Homo sapiens: one gene and its partners. The protein of the gene in region 2 interacts with the protein of the main gene of each other region in a biochemical or structural test. Each region holds a gene or a part of one and is shown on either strand. Other genes may lie near its edges. The genes, in order: TOR1AIP1, TOR1A and LMNA.

Region 1 (3,822 bases), on a different chromosome or scaffold from region 2:
CGTTTCTTTAGAAACAGGTGGTTAGGTTTACCAAAACTTAGGAAATATACCAGTCAGAACTCCTCTTGAGACAGAATACAATGAATTCAACAGAATATAATAATATTTGCCATTGTTGTTTTACAAAAATATATTACTTCAGAAAATCAAAAAGATGGGGTAGAGAGTCACAAATGATGTGGAAGAAAGCAGAAGAGTGAAAAATGTTTAGATCCTTAAAGATTTAATAAAATAGGGGTAAATTCTTTACTTGTTAAAAAAAAGTTAGCCTGTATAACTGCACTAGGCTCTGTGGAACTCAATACAATGTAACATATTTTTTGCCTACCATGTACAAAGCATTCTTCCAGGTACTGAAAAATACTGAATTAAACCAAGTACTTAAATTACTATCAAATATATTATAGGCTCCTTGTCTGCAAAAACTTTGTAATCTTAAAAGAGATAAAACTAACACATATATGGGCTAAACTGTCTTCAGTTGCTACACCCAAAAATAACTGACATAACTTTAACATAAAGTTTCCAAAATCAAGTCTTCAAATCTGTCAGTACCTTCACGAGTCAGCAGGTAAACTTGCAGCCTATCACCGTGCTCTAAGCTGAAAACCCACTCCTCCGCCTATCAATAGTCTACCACAAACTATGTCATCCCATTGTGACTCAGGTCCGCTGATTTTTACCTCACAGGTGCCTTACATGGGATTAACATGAAACTTCATCTGTGACTCAGTGTTAGGTCCTAAAATGGGGGGGGCAGGGTGGGAGAGGATAGATTAAGGAAACTGATTCACCTATGACTTACCTAACACTATACACTCACTTTGTCAGCATCCCTTTTGTCCATTTAGACGAAAACTCTAATTAATAGTCTTGTTTTTCAGGTTACTTTGTCAGTCTGATTTGCCAGACTACTTGAGGTTACAGTGACGGCCACCAAAGTGGCAGATTTTTGGCAGGGACCACCACACTGGAGAAACAGCAATCAGCTCAAGTTATCAAACACTGGGGAACATCAGTTCAGGAAAAATGAGTTACCCCATTTCGGTGAAAGTATTGGGTGAGGTCTCAAATCAATTCACTAAACTCAGCAATCCCTCGAAATGCCCACTCACAAAATTTCTCCTTCCTCTCTGCCCACCTGGGTGAGGAGGGAAAAAGACTGAAAGGTTAGATCCTCAGCTGGGGACTCTGGCCCGCGAGCGTTAAAGAAGGAAATGGAAGTGGTTTCTGTAGAAACATCCGCAGGGTAGAGGGAACCGAAATGAAACCGACCCTGCAGTAATTCGCTGTCCCCTCGTGAAGGCCTGCAGAAAAAGGCAGCTCTGACTCCCCTAAATTGATGCCCGATGTTGGGCAGAGCGCCCCAGCCCTGCCCGGGTCGCTCCACACGACCATCTTTCCACTCCTCCGGTCGGCGCTTCCTTCCCCGCTGCGGGTCAGGGTGGCCCTTGCACGGCGGCACAAGTCCAGAGGGGGCTGAGGAATACCCTTTAGCCAATCCCAGTACTTAGTACCCAGGCGGGCATGAGCTCCACCGAGGCGCGCGCCCGCCCCCGCGCGTTCCCTGGCTCGCGGCTGGGACTGTTACCTCCGCGGTCCTCACCTTCAGAGGAATGAGAGTCCCGCAGCCCTCTCCTGGTCATAACAGGAGACGGCTGTAGCGGAGGCTGCTCTGAGTGCTGCTGCTGAAGGCGGGTAGTCCTTCGCGTCTTCATTTCCTCGGTTTCCTGGGGTCGCGGCTGCCTCCGCTGCCTAGACCGAAGGTAGTACGCGCTTTCTCTCACTTCCTCTTTCGCAGAATCGGACCGGAACTCTTCTAGCCGGGTTCGTTTTCCCACCGGGGACCTTTCTTTGGCCACCAGGGGCTCGAAGTCGCCGTACACTTCTGGCGGCTCGTCCGAGAACCTCACTTCCCGCCGGCCCTGGCGCGACGGAGGAGTTCTGTACGCAGGCGCATCGCTGCTGCCGCCATTTTGAGGGGCGAGCCGGCCCCTTCCCTCTCGGATGGGGGCCCTGGGGGTGACGTACACACCCCATCCTTCCCGCACCGCCTCTGCCCGCCGCCCGTCGCCCGCCATAGTTGTTGACGTAGCTTTAGTCGATCGCGAAGATGGCTTTATGGACCCTAGGTTCTCCTGCCGGTGGTGGCGATGGCTTCTCGGGGGTGTTGGGCGGTGGCCGCTGTGGTCAGGGAGGCAGTTGCGAGTCGCTGGGGCCGCCGCCTGCGTCGTCGCTGCTGTGTAGCAAACCTGCCTCTGGGCCCATGGTGTGTCTTGAGGGCTGTGAGAGAGGCAGTGCCTGAGCTGGGTCAGCTGCTGTGGATCGCTCCCGCCTCCTGGCTGGAGGCACCAAAGAGGAGGAGAAGGGGGAGGAGGACGTCTCTGCCATCGCCCTTAAGTAAAGGAGGGGTGGGGGCGATAGAAGGATGGCAGGGCAACTTGCCTGTCCTAAGTCTAGCCGCTCGTGGCAAGTGTTGACTGCGTGTAGGAGACTCCCGTCCTATCTCCCAGTACCAAGTCTCGGGGAAAAGGAGTGCGACGAGGGTGGAGAAGACCCAAGTTTCGCTTCTCGGCCCCAGGCTGTTGCGCAGTTTCCCTGGAATCTTTTTGATCGACTGCTACGTTGACCATGTCCTTCCCAGTGTCCTTAGCAGGAGTGATGGCCAGAGAGAGAACTTTTGCACATGCCATGTTTTCGTGGCAAAAATTTTAGTTTCAAGTACCTTATGAGGGCGGTTACCTAGTTTTGAATTTTGTCACTTGTTGAGGGTGTACAAAATCCTATCTAGAGTCATACTCGTTGGATGTATTTTCTTTTCCGAAATGTACCCATAGGACACATAACCTTATTCCTGGTCTTTAATATTTCTCGGTTTTATACCAAGCAGCAGTGTTCGGAAGACCATGTTAGTGCTACATTGTGCACAGTGAGAAATGAACAAGTTTTTTAATTAAAGACAGCACTGTAATTTTAAGTTGTGATCCATTATTTTTACTTTTATTCTGGATGTGACGTGATACTCTACATTTGATTTAGAATGCTTTATGGACTTTATGGAATAAGAAAGCATGGTAAAATCTATTTGTTTCACCTCCTTATACAAATGTTTACAGATGTGGCTAATCTGCAAATACCTAACCAAATTTAGACACATTCAGAGAAGGTCGATTAAGTTCGTGTAAAGTCTGAATAATTATTGAAAGAAAGCTTAAATTGCCTTCAAATATACAACTGCTTGTAGGGCTTTGTATGATTGGAGTGAATAGATTTAAAAAATTGTAATTTGGATACCAGTTACAATGAGCGATTCTGAAAAGTTTGAAGGTGTTTGTTTATTCTTCCAAGTAATCACCTTAAAATGTTTTTGAGCAACTCATTTGTTGCTCAAACTTGGCACAAATTTCAACTACTTAAGTCGTAATGTGTACTATGTTTTTATTTTATTTTTATTTTTATTTTATTTTTTTTGAGACGGAGTCTTGCTCTGTCACCCAGGCTGGAGTCCAGTGGCGCGATCTCGGCTCACTGCAACCTCTGCCTCCCGGATTCACGCCATTCTCCTGCTTCAGCCTCCCCAGCAGCTGGGACTACAGGCGCATGCCGCCACGCCCGGCTAATTTTTTTGTATTTTTAGTAGAGACAGGGTTTCACCGTGTTAGCCAGGATGGTCTCGATCTCCTGACCTCGTGATCCGCCTCTCGGCCTCCCAAAGTGCTGGGATTACAGGCGTGAGCCACCCTGCCCGACTGTGTACTATGTTTTTACTAATATTGTCCATAAATTTGGCCACAGGCAGGAGGAATTACAGTTTTAGAGTGA
Region 2 (3,822 bases):
ACGGCATCCTTCCTTGCTCAACCACTGGCTCTTTCTTCTACAAAGAAAATCATGTAGCTGAAGAAAATGGGGGAACTGGCCAGGCGTGGTGGCTCACGCCTGTAATCCCAGCACTTTGGGAGGCCGAGGCAGGCGGATCACGAGGTCAGGAGATAAGACCATCCTGGCTAACATGGTGAAACCCCGTTTCTACTAAAAATACAAAAAATTTGCCGAGTGTGGTGGCAGGTGCCTGTAGTCCCAGCTACTCGGCAGGCTGAGGCAGGAGAATGGTGTGAACCTGGGAGGCAGAGCTTGCAGTGAGCCGAGATCGCGCCACTGCACTCCAGCCTGGGCAACAGAGCGAGACTCCATCTCAAAAAAAAAAAAAAAACAGCAGGCCAGGTATGTAGCTCATGCCTATAATTCCAGCACTTTGGGAGGCTGAGGCGGGAGGATGACTTAAGTCCAGGAAGTCAAGACCAGCCTGGGAAACATAGGAAGACCCAGTCTCTACCAAAAAAAAAAAAAAAAAAAAAAAAAAAAATTAGCCAGGCATGGTGGCGCAAGCCTGTGGTTCCACCTACATGGGAAGCTGAGGCTGGAGGATCACTTGAGCCTAGGAAGTCAAGACTCCAGTGAGCTGAGATCACACCACTGGACTCCAGCCTGGGTGACAGAGTGAGACTCTGTCTCAAAAAATAAGCTGAGCACAGTGGCTCACGCCTGTAATCCCAGCACTTTGGGAGGCCGAGGTGGGCGGATCACCTGAGGTAAGAGTTCAAGACCAGCCTGGCCAACATGACAAAACCCCATCTCTACTAAAAATACAAATATTAGCTGGGCATGGTGTGCACCTGTAATCCCAGCTACTCAGGAGGCTGAGGCACAAGAATCGCTTGAGCCCGGGAGGCAGAGGTTGCAGTGAGGCAAGGTTACGCCACTGCACTCCAGCCTAGGTGACAGAGTAAAACTATCTGAAAAATAAAAATAAAACAGCACTTGTCAAACATTAGTGTTCATAAAAGTTACCTGGAGTTCATCAGCAAAGATTCCCCTCATGACTCGGAAGGGGACTGAGAATCTGCATTTCTTTCTACCCAGCTCCCAGGTGATGCTGACAGTGACCCTGATGCTTTTAACACTTAGGGTGCAGGATTAGGAACCAGATGGGACTGGCGGTGGATGGCCCTACTCACTGTTCTTGTTATTGAAAACCGACACAGACAACGCGTGTTCAATGTCTTTGAGCTTGATGTCTTCCCTCTGCTTTCCACTCCTCCAGAAATCCAAAGCCACATCTGTGATCCTTTCTGCTCCAGCATTGCTGCAAAACAATCCCAGTGGGTAAGGACAGGGTTTTCTCCTGGAGCTCAGAGGCTTGGGCTCGGGGCCCATCCATCATGTCCTAGCCCTGACCTTACCTGAGAAATATGAACATGGCTTTCTGGTAGGAGACCCCATCCACCAGGTCATAATAGTCGAGGAAAGGCTTGATGGCATCTATGAGGCCTGCATGCATCTTATCCATTTCATCAAATATGAAGATGGACCTCGCACAGGCACTCACGTTGCCTCGAATCCACAACTGTAACTGATCCTGAATTAAAAGGGGAAAAAGCGAACACAAAGTTCTCAGCCAGGGCCATCAATCAGCTCCTTCTACCACTAAGAACCGCAGCTTCACTTACAGACCACTGTGCACTCGGCACTAAGAACTTTACATGCCCAAAATCTTCTTTGTTCCTACCAACCCCATGGAGTGGGCACTATCGTTCTCATTTTACAGATGAGGGAACTGAGGCACAGAGAGCGCTTACTCCACTTGCCCAAGACTATATGTGGCAGAGCTGGGACCTGAACCCAGTCCTGTCTCACTCCAAAGCCCGATACTTTGGTTACGGTTCCCGCACTGCGAGATGCCACACGGATGCTGTCAGAGATGCTGCTCTTTTGTCATCAAAGGGGCAATGTGGGATGTCATGAGGATACTGATTTTTATTTAAAAAGGGGGTGGGGTCGGGCATGGTGGCTCACACCTGTAATCCCAGCACTTTGGGAGGCTGAGGCAGACGGATAAGTTGAGGTCAGGGGTTTGAGACCAGCCTGGCCAACATGGTGAAACCCCATCTCTATTAAAATACAAAAATTAGGGCCAGGCATGGTGGTTCATGCCTGTAATCCCAGCACTTTGGGAGGCCAAAGTGGGTGGATCACCTGAGGTCAGGAGTTCAAGACCAGCCTGGCCAACATGGTGAAACCTGGTCTCTACTAAAAAAAATACAAAAAAATTAGCTGGGTATGGTGGCAGGTGCTTATAGTCCCAGCTACTCAGGAGGCTGAGGTAGAATTGCATGAACCTGGGAGGCGGAGGTTGCGGTGAGCCAAGATCAAGCCATTGCACTCCAGCGTGGCGACAGAGCAAGACTCCATTAAAAAAAAAAATACAAAAATTAGCCAGGCATAGTGGCAGGCGCCTGTAATCCCAGGTACTTGGGAGGCTGAGGCTTGAGAATCGCTGGAACCTGGGAGGTGGAGGTTGCAGTGAGCTAAGATCACCCCACTGCACTCCAGCACTCCAGCCTGGGAGACAGAGCAAGACTCCGTCTCAAAAAAAAAAAATAATAATAATAATAAATAAATAAAATAAAATAAAATAAATAAATAAAATAAACAAGGATTCACTCAGACCTGTTAGGCTCCAGCAGCCAAGGTTTCTCACTCTGGTGACCAAACTTATATGCAATAACAGGGAACATGCACTGAGTGTTCACTATGGGAACAACAATATTCTAAGCACTGTTCATATAACTTTTTTTTTTTGACAGTCTCGCTCTGTTACCCAGACTGGAGTGCAATGACATGATCTCAGCTCACTGCAACCTCTGCCTCCCAGATTCAAGCGATTCCCTTGCCTCAGCCCCCTGAGTAGCTGAGACTACAGGCACCTGCCACCACGCCCAGCTAATTTTTGTATTTTTAGTAGAGATGGGGTTTCACCATCTTGGCCAGGCTGGTCTTGAACTCTTGACCTTGTGATCCACCCGCTTCGGCCTCCCAAAGTGCTGGGATTACAGGCGCGAGCCACCACACCTGGTCTGTTCATAGAACATTTTACTGTGACCTCCCAAAACCCATCACGGTAGTTACCATTGTGCTCCTTCTTTTACAAATGAGAAAACTGAGGCACAGACAAGTGAAGTAACTTTGCCCAAAGTCACAGTTATTGTTAGTGAAGCCTCAATTCTAAGATGATCAACTTATCCTGATTCGTCTAGAATGGTTCTTGTTTGTTTGGGACAGGGTCTCACTCCGTCACCCAGGCTGGACTGCAGTGGCTGTCTGCTCACTGCAGCCTCGACCTCCCAGGTTCAAGCCATCCTTCTGCCTCAGCCCCCTAAGTAGCTGGGACTACAGGTGCATGCCACCATGCCTGACTAATTTTTTTGTATTTTTTTAGTAGAGATGGGGTTTCACCATGTTCCCCAGGCTGGTCTGGAACTCTTGAGCTCAAGGGATCAGCCGGTTTTGGCTTCCCGTAGTGCTAGAATTATAGGCATGAGCCACCACACCCGTGGAACATTCGCATTTTAGTACAGAACCGCTGGACAGTGGGTGACCCACACGCTCACCCAGACAGAAGGGAAAAATGTGTTCACATTTTTCCATAGATACAGTCAGGGATAAATAACTGATTGAGGCCAGGCATGGTGGCTCATACCTGTAATTTCAGCACTTTGGGAAGTAGAGACAGCTGGATGACCTTGAGGTCAGGAGTTTGAGACCAGCCTGGCCAACAAGGTGAAACCCTGTCTCTATTAAAAATACAAAAATTAGCTGGGT
Region 3 (3,600 bases), on a different chromosome or scaffold from region 2:
GCTTCTGGAGCTGGCTGAGCTGGGCAGAGAGGCTGTCGATGCGGATGCGCGACTGCTGCAGCTCCTCGTGGGCAGCCCCCACCAGGTTGCTGTTCCTCTCAGCAGACTGCCTGGCATTGTCCAGCTGGAGGGGAGGACAAAGGGTTAGGACTGTGGTGACTGGGAGGGGTGGAGGCACAGGCCTGAGTTGGGCATCACTGCTACAGCCCCAGGTCCTGGGCCACCCTGAGCTCCCTGCCACCATCTGCCTGATCCCCAGAAGGCATAGCCCAGCGTGGGTAAGGGTAGGGCTGCCAAGGGCAGAGGCAGTGAGGGAACCAATCGAGAGCAAGCACCTTGGCAGAATAAGTCTTCTCCAGCTCCTTCTTATACTGCTCCACCTGGTCCTCATGCTGGGCCCGCAGTTCCTGCAGCGCATCCGCCAGCCGGCTCTCAAACTCACGCTGCTTCCCATTGTCAATCTCCACCAGTCGGGTCTCATGACGGCGCTTGGTCTCACGCAGCTCCTGGAAGGGTTGGAGGAAGGACACAGAAACCAAAATCAGAATTAGTTCCTGGGAGGCCAAGACCCAGGGGCGGGGCTCCCTGCCCAGCCCTACTCCATGAGCCACTACCAGCCCCACTTTAACCTGGGAGCTGAGTGCTGGCCACCCCCAACTCCCTGTCCACTAGGGCAAGGGACTCAGGAAGGCGAGCTCTGCACACAGCTGGTCCCCCCTAGCCCAGCCCAAGTCTGTCATCACCCAGCCCCAGCCCTCTGGCTTGCAAAGCACAGTCCCCACCTCACTGTAGATGTTCTTCTGGAAGTCCAGTTCCTCCTTCATGGTCTGCAGCCTGTTCTCAGCATCCACCCGCCGCAGCATCTCATCCTGAAGTTGCTTCTTGGCCTCACCTAGGGCTGCCTCAAGCTGTGAGGAAGCAGGCAGAGATGAGGAAAAGGGGTCACAGAACACAAGAACTGGAAGGAAGCTGAGAGGTGGGCTGCTGCCTGTGCACCCCTTCACACATGTGGAAACAGGTCCAGGGAAGGAGGGCCTTGGATGCCTGCAGGGGTCAGGACATCTACTCACTCACTCTTGGTAGGTACTGTGCTAAGAGAGAAAATATATATCTAATACAAAAAAGTAGCCAGGCATGATGGTGGCACACGCCTGTAGTCCCAGCTACTCAGGAGGCTGAGGCACAAGAATCGCTTGAATCCAGGAGGTGGAGGTTGCAGTGAGCCGAGATCGCACTACTGCACTCCAGCCTGGGTGACACAGCTAGACTCTGTCTCAAAAAGAAAAGATATATGCCCCCCAGCCACAGGACTCCCTTCTCTGGCACAACATAGCAACTGCTATAAAGGAGGTATGTGCAAAGTACTGAGGGGACATGAGAGAAGGAACCAAAGTATGCCTGGGGTACTTTTGGGGGGCTCTGGGAAGGCCTCCAAGAGGCTAAGACCCAAGGGACAGGCTAGCGGGGCCTACAGAGAGCTACTGTCATGATTTCAAGGGCAGAAACAAGCATGTACAGGCACAGAGGTATGAAGGCATGTGTGTTCTGGGGTCTTTGGAAAGATCAGTACTGCTGAAGCCTGAAGTACGGGGTGGGAAGGGATGGGAGAGGTGGCTGGGTCAGTAGGCAGGGGCTGGCTCATGAAGAGATGCCCTTATCTGCCATGAAAAGAACCTGAGGATGTTTGAGCAGGGGAGCACCACGCTTAGATTTTCTTTTTTTTATTTTTATTTTTTTTTTGAGATGGAGTCTCGCTCTGTCACCTAGGCTGGAGAGCAGTGGCGCGATCTCAGCTCACTGCAAGCTCTGCCTCCCAGGTTCATGCCATTCTCCTGCCTCAGTCTCCCGAGTAGCTGGGACTACAGACATGGGCCACCACACCCAGCTAATTTTTGTATCTTTAGTAGAGACAGGGTTTCACCATGTTGGCCAGGATAGTCTCGATCTCCTGACCTCGTGATCTGCCCACCTTGGCCTCCCAAAATGCTGGGATTACAGGCGTGAGCCACCACACCCAGCCGTATGCTTAGATTTTCATTTAAGAAAGCACAGGCTGGGCTAAGTGTGGTGGCTCATGCCTATAATCCCAGCACATTGGGAGGCTGAGGCAGGAAGATCTCTTGCAGCCAGGAGTTCAAGACCAGCCTCAACAACATAGAGAGAACACGTCTTGCCAGGCGTGGTGGCTCACGCCTGTAATCCCAGCACTTTGGGAGGCTGAGGCGGGCAGAACACCTAAGGTCAGGAGTTCAAGACCAGCCTGACCAACATGGTGAAACCCTGTCTCTACTAAAAATCCAAAAAGTAGCTGGGCATGGTGGTGGGCACCTGTAATCCCAGCTACTCGGGAGGCTGAGGCAGGAGAATTGCTTGAACCTGGGAGACAGAGGTTGCAGTGAGCTGAGATCGTGCCATTGCACTCCAGCCTGGGTGACAGAGTAAGACTCCATCTCAAAAAAAAAAAAAAAAAAAAGAGAGAGAGAGAGAGGAGAACATGGCTCTATTTATAAAGAAAAACAGGGCAAGGAAGCACAGGCTGATCAGTGCATCCAGGAAGGGCTGGGGGAAGGGTACAACTGGGAGGCTGGAGACCAGACCCAGGAGGAAGGTGGCCCAGCCTTGGTTCGGTGGTCAACCTGCTGGCTTCTCCAGGTCTTTCCCTGGTATACTATGATGGTAGGGCCTGGGAAGGGAAAGAACCCAGGATGGAAGCTTGGCCACTGACTCTAATCCTGGCCCCACTATGAACAGATGAGACTGTGAAATTAGGAATAAACTGCTTCTTTGATTCTTAGCTTTTATTTATTATTTATTTTTATTTTTATTTATTTATGTTTTTTTGAGATGGAGTCTCGCTCTGTTGCCTAGGCTGGAGTGCTGTGACCCGATCTTGGCTCACTGCAACCTCCACCTCCCGGGTTCAAGCGATTCTCCTGCCTCAGCCTCCCAAGTAGCTGGGATTACAGGTGGCTGCCACCATGCCTAGCTAATTTTTGTATTTGTAGTAGAGATGGGGTTTCACCATGTTGGCCAGGCTAGTCTCGAACTCCTAACCTCAGGTGATCTGCCCACCTCTGCCTCCCAAAGTGCTAGGATTACAGGCATGAGCCACCGTGCCTGGCTATTTTTTATTTTTTTTGAGATAGAGTTTTGCTCTTGTTGCCCAGGCTGGAGTGCAATGGTGCAATCTCAGTTCACCACAACCTCTGATCCTGGGTTCAAATGATTTTCCTGCCTCAGCCTCACAAGTAGTTGTTGGGACTACAGGTGTGTGCCACCACGCCTGGCTAATTTTGTATTTTTAGTAGAGACGGAGTTTAACCATGTTGGTCAGACTGGTCTCAAACTCCTGACCTCAAATGATCCACCCGCCTTGGCCTCCCAAAGTGCTGGGATTATAGGCGTGAGCCACTGCACCCAGCCCAATTCCTAGCTTTTAACATGATAAATTGGAGAAGAGTGTTTTGAAAGTAAAGGCCACTCTATATACACAAAGCATTATTAACACATGTCCCATATGTAATTAGCCATCCGCTTCTGATGGCCTCAATAAATGATCAACTCCAGTCCTCCTTTTCCCCAGAGAAATCACAAGGGCCT

What was found.
Region 1: the proteins of TOR1A (region 2) and TOR1AIP1 form a complex in vitro, tested with the Homo sapiens proteins (2 studies listed by BioGRID and IntAct).
Region 3: the proteins of TOR1A (region 2) and LMNA form a complex in vitro, tested with the Homo sapiens proteins (one study listed by BioGRID).

The regions. Positions count from the first base shown.
Region 1 is NC_000001.11:179,880,762-179,884,583, reverse strand, and holds the start of TOR1AIP1 (torsin-1A-interacting protein 1), read right to left. Parts: upstream 2,300-3,822; 5' UTR 2,269-2,299; coding exon of another isoform or gene 2,191-2,268; 5' UTR 2,082-2,190; coding exon 1,607-2,081; intron 1-1,606. Other genes in the region: uncharacterized LOC139427322, read right to left, coding at 2,191-2,268. UniProt on the Homo sapiens protein: Required for nuclear membrane integrity. Induces TOR1A and TOR1B ATPase activity and is required for their location on the nuclear membrane. Binds to A- and B-type lamins. Possible role in membrane attachment and assembly of the nuclear lamina.
Region 2 is NC_000009.12:129,817,342-129,821,163, forward strand, and holds part of TOR1A (torsin-1A precursor), read right to left. Parts: intron 1,580-3,822; coding exon 1,404-1,579; intron 1,307-1,403; coding exon 1,179-1,306; intron 1-1,178. UniProt on the Homo sapiens protein: Protein with chaperone functions important for the control of protein folding, processing, stability and localization as well as for the reduction of misfolded protein aggregates.
Region 3 is NC_000001.11:156,131,711-156,135,310, reverse strand, and holds part of LMNA (lamin), read right to left. Parts: intron 909-3,600; coding exon 783-908; intron 507-782; coding exon 336-506; intron 125-335; coding exon 1-124.